4 linked regions of the Homo sapiens genome follow. The protein of the gene in region 3 purifies or fractionates together with the protein of the main gene of each other region. This does not show direct contact. Each region holds a gene or a part of one and is shown on either strand. Other genes may lie near its edges.

Region 1 (7,417 bases), on a different chromosome or scaffold from region 3:
GTCTCAAGGGTCACAAGAACTAACACACTTAAAAACTCGGGGCCAGGTACAGTGGCTCACGCCTGTAATCCTAGGACTTTGGGAGGCCGAGGCGGGCAGATCATGAGGTCAGGAGATCGAGACCATCCTGGCTAACATGGTGAAACCTCGTCTCTACTAAAAATACAAAAAATCAGCCGGGTGTGGTGGCGGGCACCTGTAGTCCCAGCTACTCGGGAGGCTGAGGCAGGAGAATGGCATGAACCCGGGAAGCGAAGCTTGCAGTGAGCCGAGATCATGCCACTGCACTCCAGCCTGGGTGACAGAGCGAGACTCCGTCTCAAGAAAAAAAAACAACACAACATGGATGGTGCCTGGCTCAAAGTAAGGGCTGACGGCTGCCAACCTCCAATGGTGGTCTCTGCCATCAGCACTCCTGGACCACGCGTGCCATCTCCTCTCCCACCCTGGGAGGCTAGGGGTACAACTACTGTCTCCAGTTTGCCAATGAAGATGGTGGCTGCGAAATAAAAGCCCAGCTGGTCTCCTGGCCGCCCTTTCATTGCCCCTGACACACTGTGTTGAGCTCAGAGAAAAAAGGGGGTCTTCTCCTGTCAGGAAGTAGGGGTACCTGCCCCTCTTGCTGAAGCTGCTGCCTCCAAGGACAGGTGCTCAGGCCTCCTCTGTGAGGGAGAGAGCCCTGTACACACCTGGCGGGACTCCACCCCGCCCCCAGGCTCACCCCTGCACACACCTCCCAGGGCCCCATTCGCACCCCCAGGCTCACCATGCTGGAGGTTCTGACAGATGGCTGCCCTCTGCACAGGCTTCTGGGAGCCCAGCCTGTAGGCCTTCTTCAGGGCTCGCTTGGCAGCCAAAAAGTCTCCCAGGTCTTGGAGGACCTGGAGAGCAAAGGACAGCAAAGGTTTTGCAGAATCCCCAAGGCCCGAATCTACGAGAGCCTGAGCTCGGAGCCACGCACAGCGGGTACCTGTGCAATAACCACGCAGCACTCGCTCTCCATGAACCGCTTCCTCATGGTGTGCGCACACTCCCGGGCACCCTCCAAGCAGCGCATAGCCTGGGAGTGCTGGCCCGCGCGCCAGTGGATGGTGCCCAGGTTGTAGCGGGCGCGGAATAGGTCCTCGTAAAGGTGGTTCTGCCTGCAGAGGGGTGACGACCACTGAGCACCCAGGAGTGTCCATGACAGCTGCTGATGCCACACGGGCCCCAGCCCTGCCATGCTGTGGTCTCAGGGCCCTAACCATGCCTGGCCTTCTCCCAGTGTGTGGCACAGGTGTGAGAGGTGGGGGGATGAGGCCCAGCCAGACTGCTCTCTCAGGAGGACTCTGGGAAAAATACTCCCCTAACTACTTCCTCCAGGAACAAGGGACTCCACTCCCTCCTGGGGCGGGGCAGGGCCTTACTCCGCAAGGAAGATGCTCTTCCTGAAGTAATCGTTGCACAGGGCTGTCTGCTGCAGGCTCTCAAAGGTGAGGCCCAGGTTGAGATAGAGGCGGGTCCTCATCTCATTCAGCTCTCCCTGGGCCAGTGTCCCTGGAAGATACCCCCCCAAACACTCAGCCACTTCCTCCCCACATGGGGTTTCCAGCTTTGGGCCCCATTTGGGGCCTGTGCAGCGCCTCTCCTACCCCCTCCCTCCTCCCGAGGTGGGTGCAAGTGTCCTGCGGCAGATGGAGCACAGAGTGGATAAAGAGCTGACGATCTCCAGGGGAAAGGTTGAGCGGGGCATGCACCCCTCACACAAGAGCCTTGCAAAGGGAGGGCTCCAGAAGACGGGATTGCCCAAGGAGGCTGCGGGGGTGCTGGGCTGCAGCCTCTTCGGCCCGAAGTTCAGGAGGCAGAAAACGCGGAGGGGTCTGCCCACCCTCCAGCTCCTCATCCACAATAGCCAAGCTCTTCTCAAAGGCAGCCTGTGCCTGCAGCAAAGCATCCCTCGACTGGCAGTGGTCATAGATGTCCAGGTGGGTGCGGCCGATGGTGGCCCAGGCCCTCTGCAGCTCCGTGTGGTTGCGCAGGGAATGTGCCAGCTCCAGGTACTGGTGCTGGTGCTGAGTGTGGAAGGAAGTCACTGCTGTGAGCCGACTCCGCCTCAAGCAAACCGGCACCGCCAGATTCCCAGAGACCCTGTTCTTGCTAAGGAAAGAGCCTGCTCCCCCTAACCCCCACAGAGCAGGCCAAGGCCAGACACGTGCCCCTCCTCTGCATGCCAAGGGCTCTCTGTGGTGACAGTGGCTTCACGCTGTATGCAGCCAACGCTGTCACGTGGGGAGGGGCAGCTGGGAGTTGGCGGGGGGGTTGCAGTCCTGCCTCCAGCAGCCAGGGTCAGGGAGAGCTTTTGGGATGGGGCCTGACCTCCCCCAACACAAACACAGCTAAAATAACGTTCAGTAATGGTTTCTGGTGCCAGGAAACCTACTCCTGCCCCAGTCCCAGGAAAGGCTGTGGGGTCCCCACCGGAGGACTGGCCCGGGGCGGTGAAGGCAAGGCTGCGTCAGGTCAGGTGTCCCCTCCAGCCCGAGGCTCCTGACGGCGAAGACCAGGCCTCCCTCCTCAGAAAAGGGCTCCAGAGGCCGACCGGGCTGGACGAGGCCAGTGAGGGCGCCCGCACCTGCAAGGCAGCCGGGTAGTCCTCCATCTCGGCCAGGCGCTCTCCGATCTTGCGGTGGGCCACGGCACAGCCCAGAGGGTCGTCAGCGCGCTCCCGAAGCTGCAGCTCCTGCCAGTGCTGCTCCAGAGCCTCGGCGTAGCGGCCTAGGCGGGGGCACAGCACGGCCTGGCAGGCGTCGCGGGTGCGAGGGCGGCCCTGGGGCGGCGTCTGCCGGAAGAGCCCGTCGCCCCCCGGCCCCCGATCCCGGCCCGGGCCCGGGCCCCGGCCCTGCCTCCCGCCTCCTGGTCCCGGCGCTCACCATGGCCGGCCAGGAGCTCCCCCAGCTGGTGGCACAGCGCGGCCTCTTCGCGCCGCTGCCCGGCCCTCTGCGCCTTGGCTTTCGCCTTGCTCAGCTCTGTGGGAGGAAGAGGAGGGCTGGGCCTCCGCGGCGGGGTCCGGGGCCGGGGCCGAGTCCCAAGCCCTCCCCAGCCTCCGCGCCCCCGGAGGAAGGGGTCCCCGAGGAACTTACGGCGAAGCTCGCGCTCCAGGCTCATGCTCGGATCGCCGCGGGATCCGGACTTCCCGCGCTGCGCCGCGGCCCCGCCCCTCGCCGCCGACACGCAGGCCCCGCCCCTCGCCGCCGACACGCAGGCCCCGCCCCTCGCCGCCGACACGCAGGCCCCGCCCCTCGCCGCCGACACGCAGGCCCCGCCCCTCGACGGCGGCGGCGGGCGCGGGGCATTCCGGGAAGTACGGTCGGCCCGCCCGCGGCATCCTCGGAGTTCTCGTGCGGGAGGAGCTGGGGCGGGGTGGCGGCGACAACTGGGGCGTCCCACCCTAGGGGCCGTCTTCCCGGACGCCGGGTTGGCCCGCGCGTGGAGCCCTCTGCCCGGCCCGGGGAGTGCCTGGTGGGGACCCCGTTCCTCCTCGTAGGCGGCGGGGACGCGGGAGGCCGGGGGCCCGGAGCCAGCCCGTCCGGGGTCGCAGCGCGCCCTGGGTGGGGTCTTCTGGGCTGCAGCCCCCGTGCCGCCCGCGCTACTCATGGTGGACGAGCTGTGCCGCCGCCCCAATTCCTCCCGAAATTCACACACACAGCCTGCTCACAGGCGCAACTATTAAAAACGAACGTAGTGTCCAGATAGACTGACGATAAATTCACGAGCATTTGGCTGTGGGGACGTAATAAGGTGTCAGGCGCGCTCCTCCTCCGCAGAACGCAGCTGGGTCACATTTGGGGACTCGGCCCCAAGGACTGTTTTGGGAGGGGAATGTGCTTTCCATAGTGAACAAGTATTGTTTCAGCAATGTGTATGCCAGCTGTATTCTCGGAAGAGTCAGTGAACCTGTGCTTCAGCTGCAGAAGTAGCCCGGGCACAGTGGCCCGCACTGTAATCCGAGCGCTATGGGAGGCCCGGTCAGGAGGATCGCTTGAGCCTAGCAGTACGAGACCAGCCTGGGCAACATAGTGAGGCCCCATCTTTCGTGTGTGTGTGTGTGTGAGACGGAGTCTCGTTCTGTCACCCAGGCTGGCGTGCAATGGTGTGATCTCGGCTCACCACAACCTCCGCCTCCCGAGTTCAAGCGATTTTCCTGCCTCAGCCTTCCAAGTAGCTGGGACTACAGGCGCGTGCCAGCATGCCCGGCTAATTTTTGCATTTTAGTAGAGACGGGGTTTCACCATGCTGGCCAGGCTGGTTTCAAACTCCTGACCTTGTGATCCGCCCACCTCGGCCTCCCAAAGTGCCGGTATTACAGGTGTAAGCCACCATGCCCAGCCCGATACCCCATCTTTATTTAAAAAAAAGAAAGGGAGGGAGGGAGGAAAAGAAAGAAAGGAAGAAAGAGAGGGCCGGGCGCAATGGCTCACCCCTGTAATCCCAGCACTTTGGGAGGCTGAGGCAGGCAGATCATGGGGTCAGTGGATCGAGACCATCCTGGCTAACACGGTGAAACCCCATCTCTACTAAAAATACAAAAAATTAGCCGGGCGTGGTGGCGGGTGTCTGTAGTCCCAGCTACTGGGGAGGCTGAGGCAGGAGAATGGCGTAAACCCGGGAGGCAGAGCTTGCAGTGAGCGGAGATGGCGCCACTGCACTCCAGCCTGGGCAACAGAGCGAGACTCTTGTCTCAAAAAAAAAAAAAAAAAGGAAGAAAGAGAGAAAACAACTGCAAAATTATGTCTAGAATCCTGTGACATGGGGCACCCAGGCCTCTAAAATACCCTTGCTATCCCCCATTACCTTGAGGACCAAACACCTGCCATGCCTTGGGTATCTGACTCCCGGCTACACAGCACACCCAGCACTGCACTCAGGTGCAGTGGCTGGTTTCCCAGAGGCCCCAGAGGAGGCTGGGTGCACAGAGTCCAACTGAGGAGCCTCAGGAGTGGAAGATAGATGAGTTAATTTCCATCGTAATTACAGCAAGTCGTTGGGCAAAACTCAGCCAGAGAGATCTGTTGGGGAGAGAGTGGTGTGATGCACTGACAGGTCCCTGGGTCCAGTAAAGGCTGCTGGAGCCCTCCTCAGGCTGACGGCAGAGCGCTGGCCTCCTGGCGTGGCCCCTGGACTGGGCAGATTTGGGCCTCGGTGCCTCCAAGGCTGCAGGGGTGGGACCAGGCCAAGCCTGCACACCTGTGCAGTCACAAGCTGCAGGAGGCAGGAAATCCAGGCAGGCCTGGGTGTGAGGACAGGTTGTGGAGGTCTGCACTGCCAACCCCTTGCCCATCCAAAGCATGGCTCTGAGCCAAGGCAACTACTTGGAGGGCAAGCTGGTGAGGTGTGTGAGGGGCACAGTGAGGCTTGAGGGAGGGAGTGGGGAGTGAGATTCAGAATCAGAGGACTCAGATGAACAGCTGAAGACAGGGTGGCTTGGACACCAGAGGGGCTCCCTGAGCTACCTGGACAACGATTAAGTATCCCCTTCAGCCCCAGGGTCCACAGGACAGCCCAGCTCCTGGAAGCCGAATTCCCCTTCAGAGACAACCCAATTTCTCTCTTTTTTTTTTTTTTTTTTCCGAGACAGAATTTTGTTCTTGTTGCCCAGGCTGGGGCACAATGGCGTGATTCTGGCTCACTGCAACCGCCTTCTCTCAGGTTCAAGTGATTCTCCTGCCTCAGCCTCTTGAGTAGCTGGGATTACAGATGCCCACCACCACGCCCAGCTAATTTTTGTATTTTTGTAGAGACAGGGTTTCACCATGTTGGTTAGGCTGGTCTCGAACTCCCAACCTCAGGTCATCCACCCGCCTCAGCCTCCCAAAGTGCTGGGATCACAGGCGTGAGCCACCATGCCCGGCTGACAACCCAATTTCTCTGTGCCTGTTTCCCCAGTAACCAGACAAGGTACACACGTCAGGCAGTGCTGTGCAGGGCTGCAGGCCTGGTGCAGATTGCCACAGGCTGAGGGCAGCAGGGGAGGCCAGCAGAGCCCAGAAGGCCCAGCTGTGTGTCTGTCTTCTGGTAAGGAAACACAGACAAAACATGGGTTGGAATATTTTTTTAAACTACAGTTGTTACATACAGAAAATATCCAAAGAGAACGCAGACCACAAAAGTGACACATAAGTCATTTCCAACAATGGTAAAAACACTTCTTGCTCTGCTCTTTAAAAAATTATTATTTTTTTGAGACGGAATCTCGCTTTGTCACCCAGGCTGCAGTGCAGTGGCACAATCTCAGCTCACTGAAACCTCTGCCTCCTGGGTTCAAGCGATTCTCCTGCCTCAGCCTCCTGAGTAGCTGGGATTACAGGCGCGCGCCACCACGCCCAGCTAATTTTTGTATTTTTAGTAGAGATGGGGTTTCACCATGTTGGTCAGGCTGGTCTCAAACTCCTAACCTCAGGTGATCCGCCCGCCTCGGCCTCCCAAAGTGCTGGGATTATAGGCGTGACCCACCGTGCCTGGCCTATTTTTATAAATGAGGGATGTGGTGCTCACCAGGGGGTGGGGATGAGACAAGGGAGGGAGAAGGGTGGGGCCTGGCTTAGGCTATGCCCCCCACATCTGCGGAGTGTGGACCCCCACGCCCCCATCCTCAGAGAAGACAAAGGAGCAGGTCGGGACGTCAAGATGTCTCAGGGTCTTGGACACAAGCCGTGTGTTTGGCGGTCCTGTCATGTGTGGCCCACGTTGGCAACGCCACGGGAAGCCCGTGCTCCAGTTCCCGGTGGCCGAGGACCCACCGTGGTCCTCCCAGGTGCCTGGCTCCCCCAGGCCATAAGGCTCAGCTGCTGCATGTCATGGTCACAGGGCAGATGCCTGCTGAGTACGCTGGGCCGCACTTGCAGACTTGAGGCACCCACATCCCACATCTGGAAGGGCCTTGTGTGGACACTGCCCTTGCCCTCAGGCCAGCCCCTCCCATCCTGAACTCCCACAGGGCTGGTTGCCCCGGGACTGCGGAGGTGGGGCTGCAGGAGCTCAACCAGCCCCGGGTCTCCTTTCTCCACGTGGCCCCCCAACCTGCAGAGACGTCTGCCTCCAGGCCCCTGGCGTCCCAGCCTGGCTGTCCCCATGAAGAACAAGCCTCCCACCTTCCCCACCCCAGAGACATGCTGGGGCCTGTCCCTCCGTTGAGTCAGTCTCTCACACACACAACCAAACAGGTGACAGGGCAAGCCCGCCCCACCCGTGCGCCCCACACCATCACCTTGGACCCAGAAACACTACGCTAGAGGGCGTCGGGCTTCCAAAGAGATGTAGAGCCATAGCCCAACCCTCTGCGCCTGTGGGTGGAGCATGAGGGAGGACAGCCCCAAAGCGCAGCCCTGAGGTGCCCAAGTTCACCCTGGTGGTGCCAGAGTCAGAGGCAGCTGCTCCCAAG
Region 2 (7,446 bases), on a different chromosome or scaffold from region 3:
AGTGATCTATTCTACAGAATGGTGACTATAATAAATAGTAATGTGTTATACATTTCAAAATTGCTGAGTGTATATTTTAAGAGTTTTCACTACAAAAAATGTTAAGTACGAGAGGTGACGAATTTGTTAATCAGCTTGATTTAATCATCTCACAATGTAAATATAAATCAAAACATCACATTGTACCCCATAAATTTATACGATTGTGATGTCCATTAAAAATAAAATTAAAAAAAGAAGGTTTACATGCAAAGCTTTCTCATTGCTGCTTATGGATTGGGACAAGCCTAAGAAGAGTTTCTTGTTCATTATTTTTCGTTTGACAAATATTTATTTACCACGCCCCAGTGATTCTAAGTCTAAGCCTCAGTGATTCTGGTCTAGGTCATTTCCTTTATTCACTGTCCCCAATGCAGAGCTCAAGTGGCTTAGCCTCAATAGCTAGCAACAGGGTAGGTTGGTCTTTTAGAAATCCAGAGGGACACCCCACAAAGGTTACATATTAACACATTTGTAAGTATAAAACAGTTACTTCACTTTTCCTAATAAAATATCAGAATAGTCAATGCAAACAAAGTACGAGTTCAAAGAACAGTGTATTTTCTATTAAAAGAATTTTCCTTCAACTCCCTCTCACACAATTGCATTAAACAATATTTTAAAAGAAATTTCTTAGAATTTTATCACATTAAGACAACTCTTCATTTGTATTACTCCTCTGACATTTTTTTTTCTAAAATGCATGCGTTTTTTCTATTTATATGAGCACTATGCATCCAATGGAAAAAATTTTAAAATAGGGCAATATATGAAGAATAAAACAACAATATACTAGTATCAAGAGACAACAGCTATTAATATGTTAGCGTATTTTCTTCTGCTCCTAATAATGACTGGATGAAAACAATTTGGCCAGAAACAAAATTGGTATTCCTTATGCTCCTCTTTTGCTTGTATAATTTTCAGATCTTTCTGTAACAAGCTTTGTTTTTGTAATAAGAAAAACAAACAATAAAGGAGAGTATAAAAGAGCAGGGTCTCTGTATGCCTTGTTCATCCAGCTAGCTGCAGTTTCCAGAACACTGCTTGGCTCACAGTAGGTACTTCAAAAATTTTTTTGAATGGCTAAAACTTTTTTGCCCCCAACCTAGTGAACCACAGCTGCTAATGAACATGGAATCACTCTGCAGGTATGTCTGGGTACTATGTCTCTGATTCCTTTTAGTAAATAGTTTGTTCTATCCATAGGATCACTTTCGCTGTCTTAATATAAGACTGATTAAATTCAAATTCCAACTCCAACACTCACTAGCTATGTCACCTTGGCAAGAAACCTCACCACTTTGGCTCAGCTTCCTCATGTGGTGAGCACCGGTCCAGGTGCTGAGGGCACAACAAAACAAGAATCCTACCCTCTAATTTACATTCTAGTGTGCAAGAAAAAGCCTGTGGACAAACATCTGTCAGATGGCGATAAGCGATAAGCGCTGTGAAAAAACAGAAAATAGAGTAAAGGGGATAGGAGGTGATTACCTGTGGGGGTGGATGAGGGCGTGTTGCTATTTTATAAAGGGTAGTCGGCAACAGCTAAAGGTTTAAAAACTAGGCCCAGCACGGTGGCTCATGCCTGTAATCCCAGCACTTTGAGAGGCCAAGGTGGGCAGATCCTTGAACTCAAGAGTTCGAGACCAGCCTCGGCAACACGGTGTCTCTACTAAAAACAAAACAAAACAAAATCTGGGAATGGTGGCCTGTGTCTGTGGTCCCAGCTACTTGGGAGGCTGAGGTGTGAGGTTTGCCCGAGCCCAGGAGGTTGAGGCTGCAGTGAGCTGTGATCGTGCCACTGCACTCCAGCCTGGGTGACAGAATGAGAGCCTCTCTCAAAAAAAAAAAAAAAGAAAAGAAAAGAAAAAAAGAAAGAAATAGAAATTTAAAAATCATAGTGTAGTGTTTTTCAAACTTCAAGTTGTGACTAAGCGCAATCATGAAGTCCATTTAGAATTTGCATTTTCGAAAAAATGAAATAAAATTCATCCCTTCCTTGTGTGTGTGCACCTGTTTGTGCCTTACTCTATTAGCTGAGCACAGGAGAGACAAAAAGAACAACCCCAGAAAAGTGCCAGAAAAGATTAGGACCAGAGCTAAGAGGCTGGGGAGAAAGGCAAAACAAACCCAACAGTTAAGCAATCCAAGAGAGAAAACATATCACTTTTTTTAATGCAAAAAAAGTAGTATGGAAAAAAGGCCAAAAAATTAAATAGAATTGACAGATTCAATTTAACAACAACAAAAATGCAAAACTAATGAAATATGCTGTACATGACACTTTCGGATTAAATGCATGATAGTGTGTGAATATTCTCAGAAATTCCCAAAATATTTGTTCCATATTTCCTTCTCTGACCCTCACTGAGGTAAACAGTATCAAGATTTTAAAGCCAAGTCGTCTGGGAAGATTTCTTTTCTTTCAGTCCTTTAAACATTTCTTTTAATAGGTTTTGGAAATCATGTCTACTTGTCAGAAATGAGTACACTGTATTAAAGGGATACAAATCATCTCCCAAGCCGCCTCTTGCTTTGCACACGAGGTTCTCTTTGAAGCAGAGCCATAAGGTACAATTATTCTAGAACAAGGTGGGCAAACTACAGTCCTCCGACTAAATCTAACCCACCACATGTTTTTGTATGACCCTCGAGCTGAGAATGGTTTTTCCGTTTTCAAGTGATAGAAAAAAAAAATCAAAAGATTTTGTGACCCGTGAAAACGATTTTAGTGTCTGTAGTTTTATCGGAACGCAGCCAAATGCATCCATATTTTCCATGGCTGCTTTGCGCTGCAAAGCGACAGAGTCGAGCAGTTGCCCCCAAAGCCTAAAATATTTACTATCTCGGTCCTTTTAGAAAAAGTCTTGCCAACTAATGTCCTAGAATATGAGGGCTGTATTGCTTAAACACCCTTCCAACTCTCTTCCCTCTCTAGCCACCCCCTCAGCCTTAGGCACTAACAAGATTCCTTGACCCAGAATGGGGGGAGGGCGTTATAATAATGAACGGTATTGTATCGGAAACAACACAGTAAATATCTACAGAAGGGAATGTGACTGGTTCTGCCACTGACTAACGTCTGGGTTTGCGTCCCGGTCAGAAAAGTGGGCATGACAGCGGCATCTGCAAGATAGCATCTGAGCATGAAGGCACTTGGAAAGGTATCAAGGCAGCAAATGTTCCGGGGGTGCTTTTGCAAGAGGAGCCTCTCCCGGAGCTGGACGTACACTTCGGTTCCCTTTGCACGCAGGCACCTTGGTCGCCTCCCCCAACTCCGTCCCCTCTGCTCCTGGCCCTCATTTTCTTCTATTTCCCTTTTGGCCTTGCAGCCAGCTTTCTCCTCCCCCGACACACTCCTCAGGGGCTATGAAGTTCCTGAGCAGAGCAGGGCTCAGGTAAGCAGGCCCAGGGTAGTTCAGCCCTGCTCTCTCCAGCTCCGCCAGCTTGGGGTGGGGTCGCGCTGGGACCCCTGCAGGTGACAAAAATGACTCAGCAGGGGCCGGGGCTGGGATGAGAAAGGAACGCCAGTGCAGGGACAAAATCCCCTGAAGCGCGAAGAGGCCGCAAACCATCATCTTAAGGACCCAAACATCGAACAAATTAAAATGTAACAGTGTAAATCGGCTTCGGCCCGCCGGCGGCCTGTGCCGCCACAGGCTGCACATTTAGCCTAACAGGGCGGCCCGGCGGCTTTTGCAGGCAGAAAACGCCCGCGGCCTCTCCAAAAGCTCTCCTCCGTCTGAGACCAGCCCCACCTCGGCCCGACCGGGCCCCAGGAAAGGCCAGTCGGCTGGAGGAGAACATTTCAGGGGTGCAGAGAATTGCATGTCCGTGATTATCAGGGAGACTTTGAAGGCACAGTAATCTCTCGAGAACAGGAACCATTTTCCCCTCTTGCTCTGAGATTTTGCTTGGCTAAGCGGCGGCAGCCTCCCTGCCCCCCTCTCACCCCCACCACCGCTGCCGCTACAAGCAACCACGCCCCGCGGGCCCCAAGGCTCGCCGCCCCGGGGCTCGCGGCCCCCACTCAGCCGGCCAGCCGCGCCTCCATCAGCCCCGCCCTCGCGCGCCCCCATCCGCCCCGCCCCCTCGGGCCCTCATCCGCCCCGCCCCCGCGCGCCCCATCCGCCTCCGCGGCCGGCCCTGGGAGCGCCGGGCGAGCCCTCGCGCCTGCGCATCGCCAACTTCCTGCCGCGGCACGCTCCGCCCACCCCCAGAAGCCCGCCTCCGAACGCCGCGTGAAACCCGCCCGCCGCGCGTCATTGGTCTCGGCGCCGGAGCCGTTGGCTCCCAGACCCGCCTCTCCGCCTCCTCTCACTTTTCCCAGGGCGGATGCGCCTGCGCTCAGCTGCCTGGGCGGGCTGGGAGGCGCGGGTTGAAAAGTCTCGTTCCAAGTTTGGAGAGAGAGAGAAGAGCGCCTCAGACCTCGGTACCCGCGAGCGGGGAGGAGGCAGGAAAGAAGGACGCGGCGTCTGGGGAGCACCCAGGCAGCAAGACGGGGCCCGGGCTTTCGACAGTGGGGAGTGTGACGCGCTTGGGAAAGGCAGGAGCGCCAGCGGTCGGGCTGCTCTTGGCTAACGAGAGGAGTCCGAGGCGGCGGCGAGGGGCGAACGACCCGACGCAAGATGGCGAGTAAAGAGAGTAAGAGGCCCTGCGGGGCGGCGCGCGCCGGGGCCGCGGGGGGCGGCGGGCGCGCGAGGCCGCGGCACGCGCCGGCGAAAGGCGCGAATTGGCGTGCGGAGCAGGGGGCGGGGCCGGGCGCGAGACTGGGCGCGCGCCTCGAGGGGCCTGCGCGGGACGGGACCGCCGCGCCGAGGGCTCCGAGCACTTCCGGAGCCGGGCGCGGGGCCGAGGGCTGGGCCCCCCTCTTCCCTTCCCTCCTCCAGCGGCTGCGCTCCCTCCGGCGCCCTCGGCCCCGGGGCGGAGGCGGCCCCCGCCGCTGGGAAGCGAGCGCCGCGGCTCTTTCTACGCGCGCGCGCGCGTTGACCGCCTCGGGGTCGCGGCCCTTGTCCGGGGGTTGCTGGGGTCCTCAGGCCTATGGCTGCCGAGGCGGGCGTCGTGGGAGCTGGGGCCTCCCCTGATGGGGATTGGAGAGACCAGGCCTGTGGGCTTCTGCTACACGTGCATTTGTCTTCCCGACTGGGTCGCGCAGCCCCTGTACGTACAGGTCGTCATCTTAGAACAGGTGCGAACAGCTGTAACAGGGTAAACAATTTCCATGTCCGTGTAATTGACTACCCAACATGGTGTACGCAGGGGGTATTGATCTCAATGGAAAAAATAGGCTTCCTGATTGTTAGTATTTTCTCCACCTTCTGGAAGAGCAGTTAGTTGTCCGTGTCCAAATTAGAGGTAAAAGGAAAGAGTACATGAGGTGTGGCCATCTTGAGGTGACCTCCAATTTCTGACTTTGATCTATCTCAGCCACTTAATCGTGTGGGCTTTCTCCAAATTTCAGTGTTTGAAGATACTGTGGAGGAGCGTGTCATCAATGAAGAATATAAAATCTGGAAGAAGAATACACCGTTTCTATATGACCTGGTTATGACCCATGCTCTTCAGTGGCCCAGTCTTACCGTTCAGTGGCTTCCTGAAGTGACTAAGTAAGGGTTTCTGGCAACTTTTATTTTGTTTAAATTTAACTGTCGTTCTGAATTTCCTAGTTTTGGCGTTTTATGCATAGAACATAAGTATGTAATCAGCCCTTGCATGAGGTGGCAGGTGGTTTTTATTTTCAAAACTTACGTGATTTGTGGGATGATTTCTGGTGTATAGTGTGGTGGTAAAAGGGGAGAAAGAAGCTGTTGTGAGATTAATCGTGTTTGGAGGAAGCACTGAATATATTTGACATTTCCTGGGCTTGAATGTAGAGCAGCATCTTTCTGGGCCCAAACTAATGCGTTTCTTTAAAACTTTACTGAAAAATAGAATATTTACGGAAAAGTTCACACATCTTAAGTGTTGTATGGCTTGATAAATTTTTACAAAGTGAACACACGTAACAGTCATCCAAGATAAATACATTTTAATTGGTAAAGGGAAAAAGACCTTGTCAACAATTGACCAAAGAAAAGATGTTATCGGCTTATGGAATACACTTTGAGATTGCTGTTAGTCTTCATAAGAGTATTCTTTTCTGTTACATCTGCAGTTTCTCTGGTAATAATTGCTGGCATTTATTGAGCACTCAGAACAGGGCCTGGCACATCTGAAGAATCTACGTCCTGTTGTTTGTTGTAATCCTCATAATAGTACTATGCTGTAGGTACTTTTCATCATCCTTGTTTTACTGATAAGGAAACTGGGAGTGAGAGTTTAAGTGCCATCCCAAGATCACACAGCTGGTCCCTGCATTAGACTGCCTTTCTCATTCACTTGCACCTTTTCTAGTAGGAACTTGACCATGTACTTTTAAAGTGTATTAAATATGGGGTCAGGCACAGTGGTTTATACTCCTGTAATCCTAGTGCTTTGGAAGGTTAGCTTGAGCTCAGGAGTTCAAGGCTGCAGTGAGCCATGATTGCGCCACTGCATTCTAGCTTAGCCAACAGAGTGAGACCGTGTCTCTCAAAGAAACAAAAAACAAGCATCTTAAATTTGGGTGTTGCGGACATATAATTTAAAGAGGATTAAATGAAACTCTAACCTAAAAAGAGGATTTTGCAACAAGTTATAAAAATAATAAGCTAATTTTGGCTGGGTGCGGTGGCTCACGCCTGTAATCGTAGCACTTCGGGAGGCCGAGGCAGGCGGATTGCCTGAGCTCAGGAGTTCAAAACCAGCCCAGGCAACAAGGTGAAATCCCATCTCTACTAAAATACCAAAAAAAAAAAAAAACCGGGCGTGGCAGCGTGTACCTGTAGTCCTAGCTACAGGCTACAGGGAGGCAGAGGCAGGAGAATTGCTTGAACCTGGGAGGCGGAGGTTGCAGTGAGCCAACATCGCACCACTGCACTCCAGCCTGGGCGAGAGCGAGACTCCATCTCTTAAAAATAAAAATAATTATTATAATAATAATCTAATGTATATAAAACTGCTCTTACAGTGGCCGGGTTCTCCATATGCAAACATTGATTTCTATACAGATAGGAATTTCCACTAGGCTTCCCAAAAATCTAAATATAAATGTACAGATGTGGGAAGAGTAGAGAAGAACTAAATGATGGAGACTTGGAAGCATTGACGTTTACAGCCACAACAGATTGAAAAATAGATTAAGCATCATATACTCGGGTATTCAAGTTCTGGTTTGGAGCATCGTGTGCATTTGCCTCTTTGGTCTGTTAAGCAGATTTAAAATGTATTAACTAAATTTACCTTTTGGGGGATCTTTTTGACCCACTGTAACATAATAGAAAACAGCAGGGGCTTTAAACTTAGAGACCTGGGTTAAAATCATGC
Region 3 (5,705 bases):
CTGCGCCCGGCCCTAAGTTTTTTATACCATGGATTATGGTAAAAAGTTTTGATAACTGCTGCCATAGACATTCTTGGGAAAGCTAGAAACCCCAAATCCTAAAATTAGAGGGTATAGTTATATGGGAGCCTAAAGTTGTATAAGGTTATGAATGGGCAAATAAATGCATGCATACTTCTTCAGACCTCTGGAATGTTTTCTCAGCCCAAATAATACCCTTAATGCCTCCATCTTAGTGGCATAAGTCATTGGTTCATGTTTATATTCTTAGGACACAGCTATTTACTATGAGCAAAAGGGTGGAAAATAGTTCTTCAGATACAGTATTGGCAAATGACGCTAGACCGGGTGGAAAAAAAACTTATGTGCTACAGTTTCTTACGTTTCTAATGTTTGAAGTCTAAATCTATTTTCAGTCATTAAAAAAATTCTTAGAGTGATAAAATTTAAGATAACAAAAGGTAATGGTTCGCATGTCCCAAGCTTAAGTGAAAATTGGTTGTCCATTTACAACTTGATACAAAAACCTAACCCTTTGATGTCACTACAAATAGATTGTTATAATTAGTCAGAATAAAAACTCAGCAGTAAATGGCTTTATTTGGTGATTTGGCTGTATATGCTTTATTTCTAATAAGCACATATGTTGTTCCTATTATATTAACCACTGAGCTCTTTGTTGGAAAGTAATGCTTTTATTTTCATTTTAATATTTTAACATTTTTCTTTTAATTGCAATTAGACAAATGAGATTTTCTTTATATAGTTTTAACAGTCAGAAGTATTTTACTTTTAAAATCTATGAACTAGTTAATGGACAATATTTTAATAATCTGGTATATTAAATTCAAAGTTTAACATCTGGCAAAACTTTGCTTCACAAATTCACTTTTTTAGAATGATAGGAAATATATACAACTCAGAATCCATGTTTAGACAAATGCCCTTTTCCTTTCCTCAACATAAAAGCTTTAAAAAGTGCAGTATAAAAGTTTTAGATATGAAGGCACTGCATAACCTGCATCATATGGCTGTCTTGCTTAGCTGCAAGAATAATGAAAATATTCTACCTCAATTTTATGGAGCATAAGAAAATTTTTTGAGGAAGGACTTAACTCTCAAAGAAAAAGAAACCTTTTACCCCATTTAGTTAATGAATTCCTTTCCAAGATTGCTTTTCAAAGATTTGTTGGAAAAGCTATCTAGAGTATGTCAACCACAAATATGCCTGATCTCATTCTGCATGAGTGTCAGAGGAAATGGGGAAGAGTACTACAGGTGTGAAAATATATATATTTCCAAAATAGTAACGTATCTATTATAATAAAGCTAAATATACCTTTCTAAATCCATGGTTTTTATATAAATACTGCCAATAACATGATCTATTAAAAGAATTTTTAAAGGTCATGGTATTTTTAGAAATCAAATGAACCAATTTGAGCCATTGTAATCCCCTATTCTTAAACACAGGGAGTTTGTATTTTCTCCCGATATTGTATTTGGTCTTGAATTCACTGGACAATAATGATGTATGATTCAAGAAATGCTCTGATATTCTAAACTCTGTTATAAGAACAAAAACCATAGCCAGGGGACCTTATTAACAATTAGCCATATTTGTTCTTCTCTTACCAAACAAACCAAATGCTGTCCAACATCTCATGAACTATAATAGTAGCCATAAGAGGCTTCACGGTGGCTTGGAAAATTGGATCCTAAAGTTCTTGGTAGCATATAGTTGATTTCAAATCCTCTTTTTAAGGACATGCCAAAAAAGAATGGAAATCTGCCCCTTAAATTAAAATGATACCATATGTCTTCACAGGAAGAAACATTTTAGTTGAAGTAAACTTTGTTCTTTCAAAGGCCAGTAAAATAGTGGTCCAAAGACTGTCTGGGAGGCCAAGACATCTTTACAACCTGGTCTAATGATTCCTGTTTCTTTATAAGTGCTTTCATTACATATAAAGGAGAAGAAAATAATATATATGCTTTAATCAGATTAGTTTCAGAACAAATAAAATAACACATTAGAGAAAAAAATTACTTAAAAATAGTTGTATTTATATTCCACAATTTGTTCAAATACTGGTTTTCTTATAAACTTTCTACAGGATGTTTTTAAACAAATTCTTCACATTGTGTTTTGACTATGTACTTACGGAATTTCAGGGAAATAGTTCTGTGTATTTTTAATAGCTTAATTTGTACTAAAGGGATGGTAGGTGGTCACATGCAGTCCATGTGGGATTCTAACATGACATTTAGTGAGTTTTCTGATGTGGACCATCCCTTTGATGCTGAAGGTAATGCATCTGTTGAAAGAAGTGACTGTAGATTTGGATTACTGCTCTCTGCATCTTCCAGTTTTTCTGTGTTATCTTCCCAATTAATGTGGAATCTTGTGACCCTGGGATTAGATGCCAAAATATTCCTTTGAAGCTAGAGGAAAAAGGAAACATACAAATGGTAAACACTAAGAAAGTTAAATCACCATATACAAATAGAAGCTTAATAAAATGGTTCATGTTAGTACTCCTAAAGGGCTAAGTTCATATACAAAGGTATAATTCAAGTTAAGTACCTTAAATATAACTAATAAGATGTAACGACTAGGGCTGTAGCAAAGAAGTTATTTTAGATTAACAGAAACAAGATACGGAGAATCTGAGGGGATTCATCTGGCTTTTTAACTATTTAACTCCTATACTTCTGTTTTCTAAAAGAAAGAATCTCCTCATTTTTGAAAATGAATGCTTCAGAAGATGCTTTATTTAACAAGCTACTATGTTGTTTAGATTGGTATGTTTTCAAAGGAAAATGAAAAATTGTCAAATACAACTTATTATTAATGGTTTCCTACACCTTTTAAAGATGGCTCATTCTTAGAAACAGTCCTGTTTCTTTTGTGCTATATAAGGTGCTTCAGGGATAACAAATTGGATCAATGGAAGGTACAACAAGGGTGAAAAATAGTCCGGCCTTATTATCAGAAAGAACATGAGAACATTCTATTCTATTGTCATGTAATTTTTCTTGCATGGTTCAACTTCATTTACTCTGCACTCTCACAAAATCACCAGTTACCAAACTGTTATAGTTCCCAGTGAAAAATCAGAAAATACTAAGTATCTTTAAGAATGCTGAATCCTAGATTTCAGCTTCTCACTCAGAATTTAAGCTGTTTTCAGTACCAGAAATATTTAAGACTGTTAGTTTAACTTCTAAGAATAGCAGATAAAGCGTATAGGTGTTTTGAGATAACCGTATTCATAGGAAAAACAAACATAAAACTTTCATAATTTTGGGAAGAGTTACACACAAAAATATCATCATTGAATAATTAGTACAACAAAAATGCATTTGTTTGTCCTAAAGGTTGAAATGAACAGAATCATGATGGGAATAATCAATATGGGAAATGCTATAAAGAAAGCCATAAACAAAGGCCTGTCTTACAAGAAGTACTTTCTCTGGGCGTGGTGGCTCACACCTGTAATCCCAGCACTTTGGGAGGTCAAGGTAGGCAGATCACTTGAGGTCAGGAGTTGGAGACTACCCTGGCCAACATGGTGAAACTCCACCTCTACTAAAAATACAAAAATTATCTGGGCGTGTTGGTATACACCTGTAGTCCCAGCTACTTGGGAGGCTGAGACAGGAGAATCGCTTGAACCTAGGAGGCAGAGGTTGCAGTGAGCCGAGATCATGCCACTGCGCTCCAGCCTGAGCAACAGAGCAGGAAACCATCTCAGAAAAAAAAGAGGTACTTTCATTTTTCTAAACCAGAAATGCTCAAGGTGTCTGCCTACATTAATTACTAATGACTCATCTGAAGGTAGGGTTTGAAGTCATCCATGGTAATGGAACAATAATTAGTTTGCCCAGTTGGCATAAGGACCTCATATTTATTTTATCTCAAAGCCATTTTAATAGTATACTATGAAATTGCAATAGCAACTGCTTTAAAAATTGCATAGTAAAAGTAGTTAAAAAGGAATAGTAAGAACATTACCTTAGAAAAGTCTGGTTTTACTGGTGGATTTTCCCTTAATTCTGTCTCAGTATATTCATTATTTACATAATAGCCAACTCTAATAAATTCTTGTCCTCGATAGGTACAAGTAATTAGCACAACAGTTACGCCTACTGCATCTGCATCTGGAATGAGTCCTGGATTAGGTGCATCAGCCTAGAATAAATTAAAAAGAAAAGAAACACACACACACAAAAGGCTGTTAGTGGCAGGCAAGACTGGAGTTTCAGTTACCTAGAACCATCAGTTGAGGATGCAACAAGAAAAACTTGGAAATCATACTGGGAAGGAAAATGCTCATTTCTGACTGACTTATAATAAGCTGGAAAAGACAGTTCATGTTTTGCCACAATATATGTAAGGACCCTTGATACTTGAAAGCATGACTACACTTGTAAAAGGAAGAAATTCTGGCTACACTGCATGGTGGTTCATGAAAGGATTATACACTATTCATTATAAAACCTTTATAGTCAGCAATTGATTTTAACCTTTTCAGTCATAATTTTCAGACCTAAATTAGTAAGTATTAAATGATCTCCTCATAGACTGTTGGCCACAAATGTTTATTATACCAGTTTCCCTCTTCAACCCAGGATACTTATATTCTCATACCCACTCAACCACCCCCACAGGTATTCTAATAGTAAATTAGTATAAAACTGAAAATGAGGTTGGGTGTGGTTGCTTACACTTGTAATCCCAGCACTTTGGGAGGCCAAGGTGGGTGGATCATGAGGTCAAGAGATTGAGACCATCCTGGCCAACATGATGAAACCCCATCTCTATTAAAAACACAAAAATTAGCTGGGCATGGTGGCGGGTGCCTGTAGTCCCAGCTACTTGGGAGGCTGAGGCAGGAGAATCACTTGAACCGAGGAGGTGGAAGTTGCAGTGAGCTGAGATCGCACTACTGCACTCCAGCCTGGCGACAGAGTGAGACTCCGTCTCAAACAAAACAAAACAAAACTGAAAATGAGATGGAAATAGCTACATAGCAGATTTTCAAAAAATATTAATAATCCTCTATTATGAATAGTTACTTTGCTAGACTCTACAATATAGTATGCTCTTTAAACCACACATAATGTGGAAACCAGTGAAGGTAAGGATTGCTTTAGGCAGATGTCAAAGACCTTGTTTTAAATCAAGCTATTGTAAGGTGAACCTTGAGGAATGCAGAAAGTAAACTGAGTTAGACTAGACTAAGAGCATGAGCGAAGGGCAGGGCCCCATCCGTGGTAGGGTGCAGGTAGTAATGAGACGACCGGATGGAAGGAGCCAGACTGGGGAACACAGGCAGTGATGGCTGAGGCATCTGAGGCAGCCATTCTGGGTGGTAAATGGATCAAGTCCCAGCAAATTAGCTTACCTGTTGCCAGGGCACCAAGGAATATTCCTGGGCCTAGATGAGCACTTTAGCCAATGCCTTAGCTTGTGAAAATTGAAGACTGTTGTTTACTGTATGCCTAACACAGGTAGATGATACAAAAAGGCATAAAATCGCTACCTAGTGTCCTAGGCTAAAAACCTCAGTCAGCTTCACTCCCTTATCTCCTACATCTAGTCAGTCTCAACATTTTTTTCATTTCTGGAGGCTGAATTCATGTCATCTCCTATCTGGAATATTGCTTAGAATTTTCTAACTGATCTCCCCAGCTCTAGC
Region 4 (7,830 bases), on a different chromosome or scaffold from region 3:
GAACCCAGGAGGCAGAAGTTGCAGTAAGCCGAGATCGCACCACTGCACTCCAGCCTGGGTGACAGAGCAAGACTCCATCTCGAAAAAAAAGAATTATCCACCCCAAAATATCAGTAGTGCTGAAGGTGAGAAACTTTGCTGTAACTCTGCGCCTGGGGAGATCTTGTGTGACCAACTCCTGACTTGCTCTTTATAGGTGGAGCAGCTGCGCCAGGCCATTGAAGAACTGTACTACTTTGAATTTGTGGTAGATGACTTGCCAATCCGGGGCTTTGTGGGCTACATGGAGGAGAGTGGTTTCCTGCCACACAGCCACAAGATAGGACTCTGGACCCATTTGGACTTCCACCTAGAATTCCATGGAGACCGAATTATATTTGCCAATGTTTCAGTGCGGGACGTCAAGCCCCACAGCTTGGATGGGTTACGACCTGACGAGTTCCTAGGCCTTACCCACACTTATAGCGTGCGCTGGTCTGAGACTTCAGTGGAGCGTCGGAGTGACAGGCGCCGTGGTGACGATGGTGGTTTCTTTCCTCGAACACTGGAAATCCATTGGTTGTCCATCATCAACTCCATGGTGCTTGTGTTTTTACTGGTGGGTTTTGTGGCTGTCATTCTAATGCGTGTGCTTCGGAATGACCTGGCTCGGTACAACTTAGATGAGGAGACCACCTCTGCAGGTTCTGGTGATGACTTTGACCAGGGTGACAATGGCTGGAAAATTATCCATACAGATGTCTTCCGCTTCCCCCCATACCGTGGTCTGCTCTGTGCTGTGCTTGGCGTGGGTGCCCAGTTCCTGGCCCTTGGCACTGGTGAGGTGATAAAAATGAATTGGGGATTTATCTCATGGGATAGAACTAGGTAGGGAGTTTGTTCAGAAAAGGTCTGTGGATCTTCTCTTCTATCCAGAGGGGCAGACCTAAGGGATAGGGTGGCTCTAGCAAGAATGCACGTATTCTATTGTAGATTTTCTGGATAGCAAAACTGGGGGAGATTGTTTTGCTGGAGGCCCTGGGTCTGGGAGAAGGGGGGCTGATTCCTCTGAAATTGCTAGAAGAGACACAGGTGAGGCCTAACTTGGGCTTTCCGCTACCGTCCTGCAGGCATTATTGTCATGGCACTGCTGGGCATGTTCAATGTGCACCGTCATGGGGCCATTAACTCAGCAGCCATCTTGTTGTATGCCCTGACCTGCTGCATCTCTGGCTACGTGTCCAGCCACTTCTACCGGCAGATTGGAGGCGAGCGTTGGGTGTGGAACATCATTCTCACCACCAGTCTCTTCTCTGGTGAGGACTTTCCTTTCCCTGGTGGGCCTTTCTGGACTTAGGAATGAAGAACACATTGTGGCTGGTCACAGTGGCTCACACCTGTAATCCTAGCACTTTGGGAGACCGAGGCCGGAGGATCACTTGAGCCCAAAAGTTTGAGACAAGCCTAGACAACATAGTGAGACCCTCTCTCTATAACAAAAAATTAGCCGGGCATGGTGGTTCACATCTGTAATCCCAGCTACTTGGGAGGCTGACCCAGGAGGATTGCTTGAGCCTGGGGAGCCAGGGAGGTTGAGGCTACAGTGAGCCATGATTGCACCACTGCACTCTAGCTGGGCTGACAGAGTGAGACTGTCTCAAAAAAAAAAAAAGAACACATCATAGAACTTGGGATAGAGTCAGGATGAGGCTTGAAGGGAAGGAATATTGTAAAAGAAAGAAGAAAACCAAAAAAAAACAAGAATGCATTTCTTTTGAATAGTTTAAAATTACTAAGCCCTCAAAATGTCCTAGGCAGTGTGGAAAGCACTCAGCAATAACTGTGTGAAGTAGGTAATATTTCCATTCCACAGATGAGGAAACTGAACTAAAGGCTGCTTAAGTAACTTGTCTGAGATTACACTCCTAAAAAGTAGTGAACTAGGTTTCAGCAGTCTGACTTGTATTCTCACCCATTACACTAAAATAACACCCTTGAATTTTTATTTTGAAGGTGGGCCCACTCTAGGCTTTCAAACCAGATTGCCCTTTCAAAGGCAGTAGTAGTCTCTGTTCTGAACCCTTCTTGTTCCCAATTCTGTGTGTCTGATTTTTATCCCATCACATTTATATTTGAACCAAGGCTTTCTGAAAACAGGGCCTTAATCCAAAGGAATGTCTCATGCTAGGAATTACCAACTCCAAGGCAAGACAGGCCCCTGGAGGCAGATGGATTTGTGCTACTCTCAGATTATGTAGTAGCTACCTGGATCCTTAATGACACCGGGTTGGGGGATGGTGTTGGTAAGATAAAGAGCAAAGAGTCCGGGTGTGGTGGCTCATGCCTGTAATCCCAGCACTTTGGGAGGCTGAGGCAGGCAGATCACCAGGTCAGGAGATCGAGACCATCCTGGCTAACACAGTGAAACCCCATCTCTACTAAAAATACAAAAAATTAGCCGGGCGTGGTGGCGGGCGCCTGTAGTCCTAGCTACTCACTCGGGAGGCTGAGGCAGGAGAATGGCATGAACCTGGGAGGCGGAGCTTGCAGTGAGCAGAGATCGCGCCACTGCACTCCAGCCTGGGCGACAGAGCGAGACTCTGTCTCAAAAAAAAAAAAAAAAAAAAAAAAAAAACACAGAACAAAGAATAATGGGACCTGAAAGGGTGGAGGTGAAGGCAGTCGACTCTGCAGGGACATCCAGGAGCATGAGTCTGCCGTTAGAGTGGCAGGCTGCTTCAGCCCCCTCCCCTTTTGGTCCTGGATGTAAGTGGGTGCCCTTAGAGATGTAGCTCCTAGTGTTGACCCTCCCTCCGGGGGCCCATCCCTGCAGTGCCTTTCTTCCTGACGTGGAGTGTGGTGAACTCAGTGCATTGGGCCAATGGTTCGACACAGGCTCTGCCAGCCACAACCATCCTGCTGCTTCTGACGGTTTGGCTGCTGGTGGGCTTTCCCCTCACTGTCATTGGAGGCATCTTTGGGAAGAACAACGCCAGCCCCTTTGATGCACCCTGTCGCACCAAGAACATCGCCCGGGAGATTCCACCCCAGCCCTGGTACAAGTCTACTGTCATCCACATGACTGTTGGAGGCTTCCTGCCTTTCAGGTATCCTCCCTTTATTCCATGGCTATTACTGTCAGGTTCCTGACCTCAATTTTTCCTGTCCCTACTCATCCAGTACCCTAACCCAACCCGTTGATCCCTGGTTCAGTGGTACCATTCAGAGATCATTAAATGGTTCCTCCTATCCCCAAGCAGGACTGAGCTTGAATGATATGAGAGTGTCTCACTTATAAAGCTCTCCGGAGACATTTCCCCCTTCACCTTCCTGGTTTCTGACTTTAATGCCTATGGACATCATGTGGGGTTTAAAGCCCATTTGATGACCCATTTACTTTGTTGAATACCTCTTTGTGCCAGGCAAAGAATAAAGTGGAATAAAATGGACAAGATCCCTGCCCTCAATCTATTAGGGAAGATATTCTTGAAGTGAGAGCGGCTAATCATAGGCAAAAAATCCCCATGAAGCCAGGAGATCTGGGGCAGAGAGTGGAGTGAACTCACTTTTCACAATGACCCAGCAACATGGGAGAGGGTGGGGGCTGGATTTCAGCCCAGCCACTGTGCTGATGGTGCACAGCCCTTTAATGCTGTGTATCATCTCTTTTCTTCACAGTGCCATCTCTGTGGAGCTGTACTACATCTTTGCCACAGTATGGGGTCGGGAGCAGTACACTTTGTACGGCATCCTCTTCTTTGTCTTCGCCATCCTGCTGAGTGTGGGGGCTTGCATCTCCATTGCACTCACCTACTTCCAGTTGTCTGGGGAGGATTACCGCTGGTGGTGGCGATCTGTGCTGAGTGTTGGCTCCACCGGCCTCTTCATCTTCCTCTACTCAGTTTTCTATTATGCCCGGCGCTCCAACATGTCTGGGGCAGTACAGACAGTAGAGTTCTTCGGCTACTCCTTACTCACTGGTTATGTCTTCTTCCTCATGCTGGGCACCATCTCCTTTTTTTCTTCCCTAAAGTTCATCCGGTATATCTATGTTAACCTCAAGATGGACTGAGTTCTGTATGGCAGAACTATTGCTGTTCTCTCCCTTTCTTCATGCCCTGTTGAACTCTCCTACCAGCTTCTCTTCTGATTGACTGAATTGTGTGATGGCATTGTTGCCTTCCCTTTTGCCCTTTGGGCATTCCTTCCCCAGAGAGGGCCTGGAAATTATAAATCTCTATCACATAAGGATTATATATTTGAACTTTTTAAGTTGCCTTTAGTTTTGGTCCTGATTTTTCTTTTTACAATTACCAAAATAAAATTTATTAAGAAAAAGGCTCATGCAGTTGGAGGTTTTGGTCTGGATATAGGAACTCGAGCCCTGCTGTTAAGGGCACGGTCCTTTATAAAGCCGAGCTGGCCACTGAATGCCCGAAGCTCGAGTTCTCCAACCCAGCTTGGGAACTCCCGGCGTGGGGAACCTACATTGCCAGAGTCGGGTTTCCGCGATTCAGCCGGTGCTCAGCCTAACGGAAGTGGAGGAGCCGGACCTCTTTGTGGGAAGCGAATTGAATCACCTTGGCAACCCGCGGGGCGTGCAGCAACGCCCTTTCCTCCGGAAGTGGGTGTCAGAACCTCCACGTGCTGTCCCTCCCCCTCCCCTTTTCGGCCCAGTAGCGGCGGCTCAGTTGCTGCCATGGAGTCAGCCGGGCTAGAGCAGCTCCTACGGGAGCTGCTGCTACCGGACACCGAGCGCATCCGTCGGGTACGGAGCAGGCGTAACCGGGCCAGGGCGAGCGGGAGGTTGCGGGAAAGGCCCAACTCTCACCCCTAGCTTCCCCCCAGGCCACGGAACAGCTCCAGATCGTTCTTCGGGCCCCCGCCGCTTTGCCGGCTCTCTGCGACCTGCTAGCCTCGGCGGCCGACCCCCAGGTGAGACCCCTGACTCTCCCCTCCGAGCTTCCCACTGTACGCCACCGGTCAAGCCCCAGTATTCGCCCACTGCGGTCCGCTCAGCACCTTCCTGCCCGGACCCCCACGTGCTTGCTTCCTCGTCCTAGATCCGCCAGTTTGCGGCCGTGCTGACCCGCAGACGACTGAACACCCGCTGGCGACGGCTGGCGGCGGAGCAACGGGAGAGGTGGGCTGGGCCTGGGGTGGGGCGGGGCCAGGCGGAGACTTTTCTTGGGCAGGCTGGGTACCAAACACCTGCCACCTGTGTTCCAGCCTCAAGTCCCTGATCCTGACGGCCCTGCAGAGAGAAACAGAGTAAGTACCTACCCACTTCTCTCGGGATCTTGACGACTTTGTCTAGGTTTCTGCCTTCCTTTTCGGCTCCAGGCTGGGACTTGTGGGGCAGGGACTTCAGTTCTAGACGCAAGGTGGAGTGAGGATTTTAAGGCTGTTTTGAAGACTAAAGTTCTTGAGGAAGGGTGATGATGATCTGCCAAACCCAAGTCAGAAGAATAAGACTGAAATTCAGGCTAAGTTAGACTGAACTTACCAGATTACATGCCCACAGTGCTGTTGGGCTCCCTCTGAGCTGCTGTCTCATGTGTCCCAACTTGGCAAAGACCCTGTGCCCACACCTCCTGAAAGTTTCTGTCCTGGCTGCCCCATTGAGCCTGGCCACTGTGTGCAGAGGAAGGTATTGAAGGGTGATTGGAGGAGATCTCTCCTGTTTGCAGGCACTGTGTGAGCCTCAGCCTGGCCCAGCTCTCAGCCACCATTTTTCGAAAGGAAGGCTTGGAGGCCTGGCCACAGCTTTTGCAGCTGCTTCAGCACAGTACCCACAGCCCCCACAGCCCAGAGAGAGAGGTACCATCACATGGTTGGCAGGAGGGAGGGCCTGAGAGGCTGGATAGACCTTGTAAGCTTGCTCTCCCATCCTCTATTCTTGGACAGATGGGGCTTTTGCTGCTAAGTGTGGTGGTGACCTCCCGGCCCGAGGCCTTCCAACCCCACCACCGGGAGCTTCTTCGGCTTCTGAATGAGACTCTTGGTGAGGTGGGCTCTCCTGGGCTGCTCTTCTACTCCCTGCGCACTCTGACCACCATGGCTCCCTACCTCAGCACTGAAGATGTGGTGAGATGTGGGCCCTCGTTATCTTTGACTCCCTTTCCTCATGCCTTCATGTCCTCACCCGTAAAAGTTACAAAGCTGCTTTGGATTCTTTACCTGCCTGTGGCCCTTCCTGACAATTGAGAGGGGATGCTGTAGGTGGGCCTGGCTGTTATGCCTGGGCTCCTCCTCGCAATTCAGGCTGTGAGGAAGCTGCCAGCTGCTGGGGTGTGAGATTGGGCTGCATCATGCTCTCTGTGATGTGTCCCTCAGCCTCTCGCTCGGATGTTGGTGCCCAAGCTGATCATGGCCATGCAGACTCTGATCCCCATAGATGAGGTGAGGACAGGTGGGCAGGAGCTCTGTTGGAAGGAGAGTGCAGAAGTGTCCAGTTTGGCCCACTGAAGAAGAGCATGGTAACCTTGTGCCTTGTTTGTCTGTCAGGCAAAGGCCTGTGAGGCCCTTGAGGCTTTGGATGAACTGTTGGAGTCAGAGGTGCCGGTCATCACCCCCTACCTCTCTGAAGTCCTCACATTCTGCCTGGAGGTGAGCCTGGAGTGGACATGGCCCCTGCTACATGCTCTGCTGGGACTCTCCTTCCCTGTCGCTGATTTTTATTATTCTGTGGACAGGTAGCTAGAAATGTGGCCCTGGGCAATGCGATACGCATACGTATTCTCTGCTGCCTCACTTTCTTGGTCAAAGTCAAGAGCAAGGTAAGTGAGTGCCCATTGACACACATCACCCCACCCCCATCTCCACCCTTAGTCTCACTCCTGGGGCTTTCGGTCCATCTCAGGGTATCTAAAGTACTGTGGGGGTTCAAGCCTTGGCCTGGCCTCACCCCAGCTCCTGCCTGGGAGGTTGGGAATTTTCTGTCAGACCCCTTATGGCCTGGAAGACTGGAATTTTTAATGTGAGCCCATCCTGGGAGCAGATTCTTAGGGACACTGTTCCACCTTCTCTGTCAAGGCCTTACTGAAGAATCGTCTCCTGCCACCCTTGCTGCACACCCTTTTCCCCATTGTGGCTGCTGAGCCCCCACCAGGCCAGTTGGATCCCGAGGACCAGGATTCAGAAGAGGAAGAGTTGGAGATTGAGCTGATGGGGGAGACTCCCAAGCATTTCGCTGTACAAGTGAGATGTGGGGCAGGACAGAGGGGGAAGGTGTTAGGTGGCTGTGGGACGTTGGGGAGGCAGAGATGGAGTCAAGCAAAGTAAGTCTCCCCATCCCATCTCAGGTTGTGGACATGCTGGCACTACACCTGCCCCCCGAGAAGCTCTGTCCCCAGCTGGTAAGTGTGGCTCTGTCCTTCTGGTGTCCCTACCTCCAAGTGTGCCTAGTCCCCCTGAGGCCAACGACGTTTAGACCCTGGGAGGTGTGAAGGCCTATTACCACAGGAATGGGCAGGCTCTTGCTGGGGTTTCAGAAGCGTGCCACATGCTTCCCTAGATGCCCATGTTGGAAGAGGCTTTGCGGAGCGAGAGCCCATACCAGCGCAAAGCTGGACTCCTGGTGCTGGCCGTGCTGTCTGACGGAGCTGGCGACCACATCAGGCAGAGGTATGTATTCCCCTGTCCCAGGGTGAGGGTTGCCCACAGGGAGGACCATGGCTGTCCTGGTTTACGCTTGTTGTTCAAGCTTATTTATCAACAGCGTTTCCCCCCATTATCAAAAGTGTCCTGGCTTGGAAGATAAATGACATGGCTTACCAGCTATAGGGACCAGGGGCTGCTGCCCACCCTCTGGTGACAGGAAAAGCCTTGGTTTTTCCAGGGAAAATGAAG

The links.
Region 1: the proteins of ASF1A (region 3) and TONSL purify together in Homo sapiens (affinity purification with mass spectrometry; 5 studies listed by BioGRID and IntAct, with this or other methods). This does not show direct contact.
Region 2: the proteins of ASF1A (region 3) and RBBP7 purify together in Homo sapiens (affinity purification with mass spectrometry; 6 studies listed by BioGRID and IntAct, with this or other methods). This does not show direct contact.
Region 4: the proteins of ASF1A (region 3) and IPO4 purify together in Homo sapiens (affinity purification with mass spectrometry; 5 studies listed by BioGRID and IntAct, with this or other methods). This does not show direct contact.

What each region holds. Positions count from the first base shown.
Region 1 is NC_000008.11:144,441,271-144,448,687, forward strand, and holds the start of TONSL (tonsoku-like protein), read right to left. Parts: upstream 3,171-7,417; 5' UTR 3,145-3,170; coding exon 3,120-3,144; intron 3,006-3,119; coding exon 2,910-3,005; intron 2,755-2,909; coding exon 2,612-2,754; intron 2,052-2,611; coding exon 1,868-2,051; intron 1,537-1,867; coding exon 1,407-1,536; intron 1,143-1,406; coding exon 971-1,142; intron 882-970; coding exon 767-881; intron 1-766. UniProt on the Homo sapiens protein: Component of the MMS22L-TONSL complex, a complex that promotes homologous recombination-mediated repair of double-strand breaks (DSBs) at stalled or collapsed replication forks.
Region 2 is NC_000023.11:16,867,278-16,874,723, reverse strand, and holds the start of RBBP7 (histone-binding protein RBBP7), read left to right. Parts: upstream 1-4,361; 5' UTR 4,362-4,670; coding exon 4,671-4,686; intron 4,687-4,860; exon of another isoform or gene 4,861-5,082; coding exon of another isoform or gene 5,083-5,230; intron 5,231-5,503; coding exon 5,504-5,648; intron 5,649-7,446. UniProt on the Homo sapiens protein: Core histone-binding subunit that may target chromatin remodeling factors, histone acetyltransferases and histone deacetylases to their histone substrates in a manner that is regulated by nucleosomal DNA.
Region 3 is NC_000006.12:118,904,142-118,909,846, reverse strand, and holds the end of ASF1A (histone chaperone ASF1A), read right to left. Parts: intron 4,196-5,705; coding exon 4,019-4,195; intron 2,446-4,018; coding exon 2,233-2,445; 3' UTR 676-2,232; downstream 1-675. UniProt on the Homo sapiens protein: Histone chaperone that facilitates histone deposition and histone exchange and removal during nucleosome assembly and disassembly.
Region 4 is NC_000014.9:24,185,636-24,193,465, reverse strand, and holds the start of IPO4 (importin-4), read left to right. Parts: upstream 1-4,649; 5' UTR 4,650-4,678; coding exon 4,679-4,747; intron 4,748-4,827; coding exon 4,828-4,914; intron 4,915-5,042; coding exon 5,043-5,122; intron 5,123-5,208; coding exon 5,209-5,250; intron 5,251-5,669; coding exon 5,670-5,799; intron 5,800-5,886; coding exon 5,887-6,066; intron 6,067-6,315; coding exon 6,316-6,381; intron 6,382-6,486; coding exon 6,487-6,588; intron 6,589-6,674; coding exon 6,675-6,758; intron 6,759-7,014; coding exon 7,015-7,179; intron 7,180-7,283; coding exon 7,284-7,337; intron 7,338-7,495; coding exon 7,496-7,605; intron 7,606-7,830. Other genes in the region: TM9SF1 (transmembrane 9 superfamily member 1 isoform a precursor), read left to right, coding at 197-818, 1,110-1,295, 2,813-3,086, 3,658-4,051. UniProt on the Homo sapiens protein: Nuclear transport receptor that mediates nuclear import of proteins, such as histones, RPS3A, TNP2 and VDR. Serves as receptor for nuclear localization signals (NLS) in cargo substrates.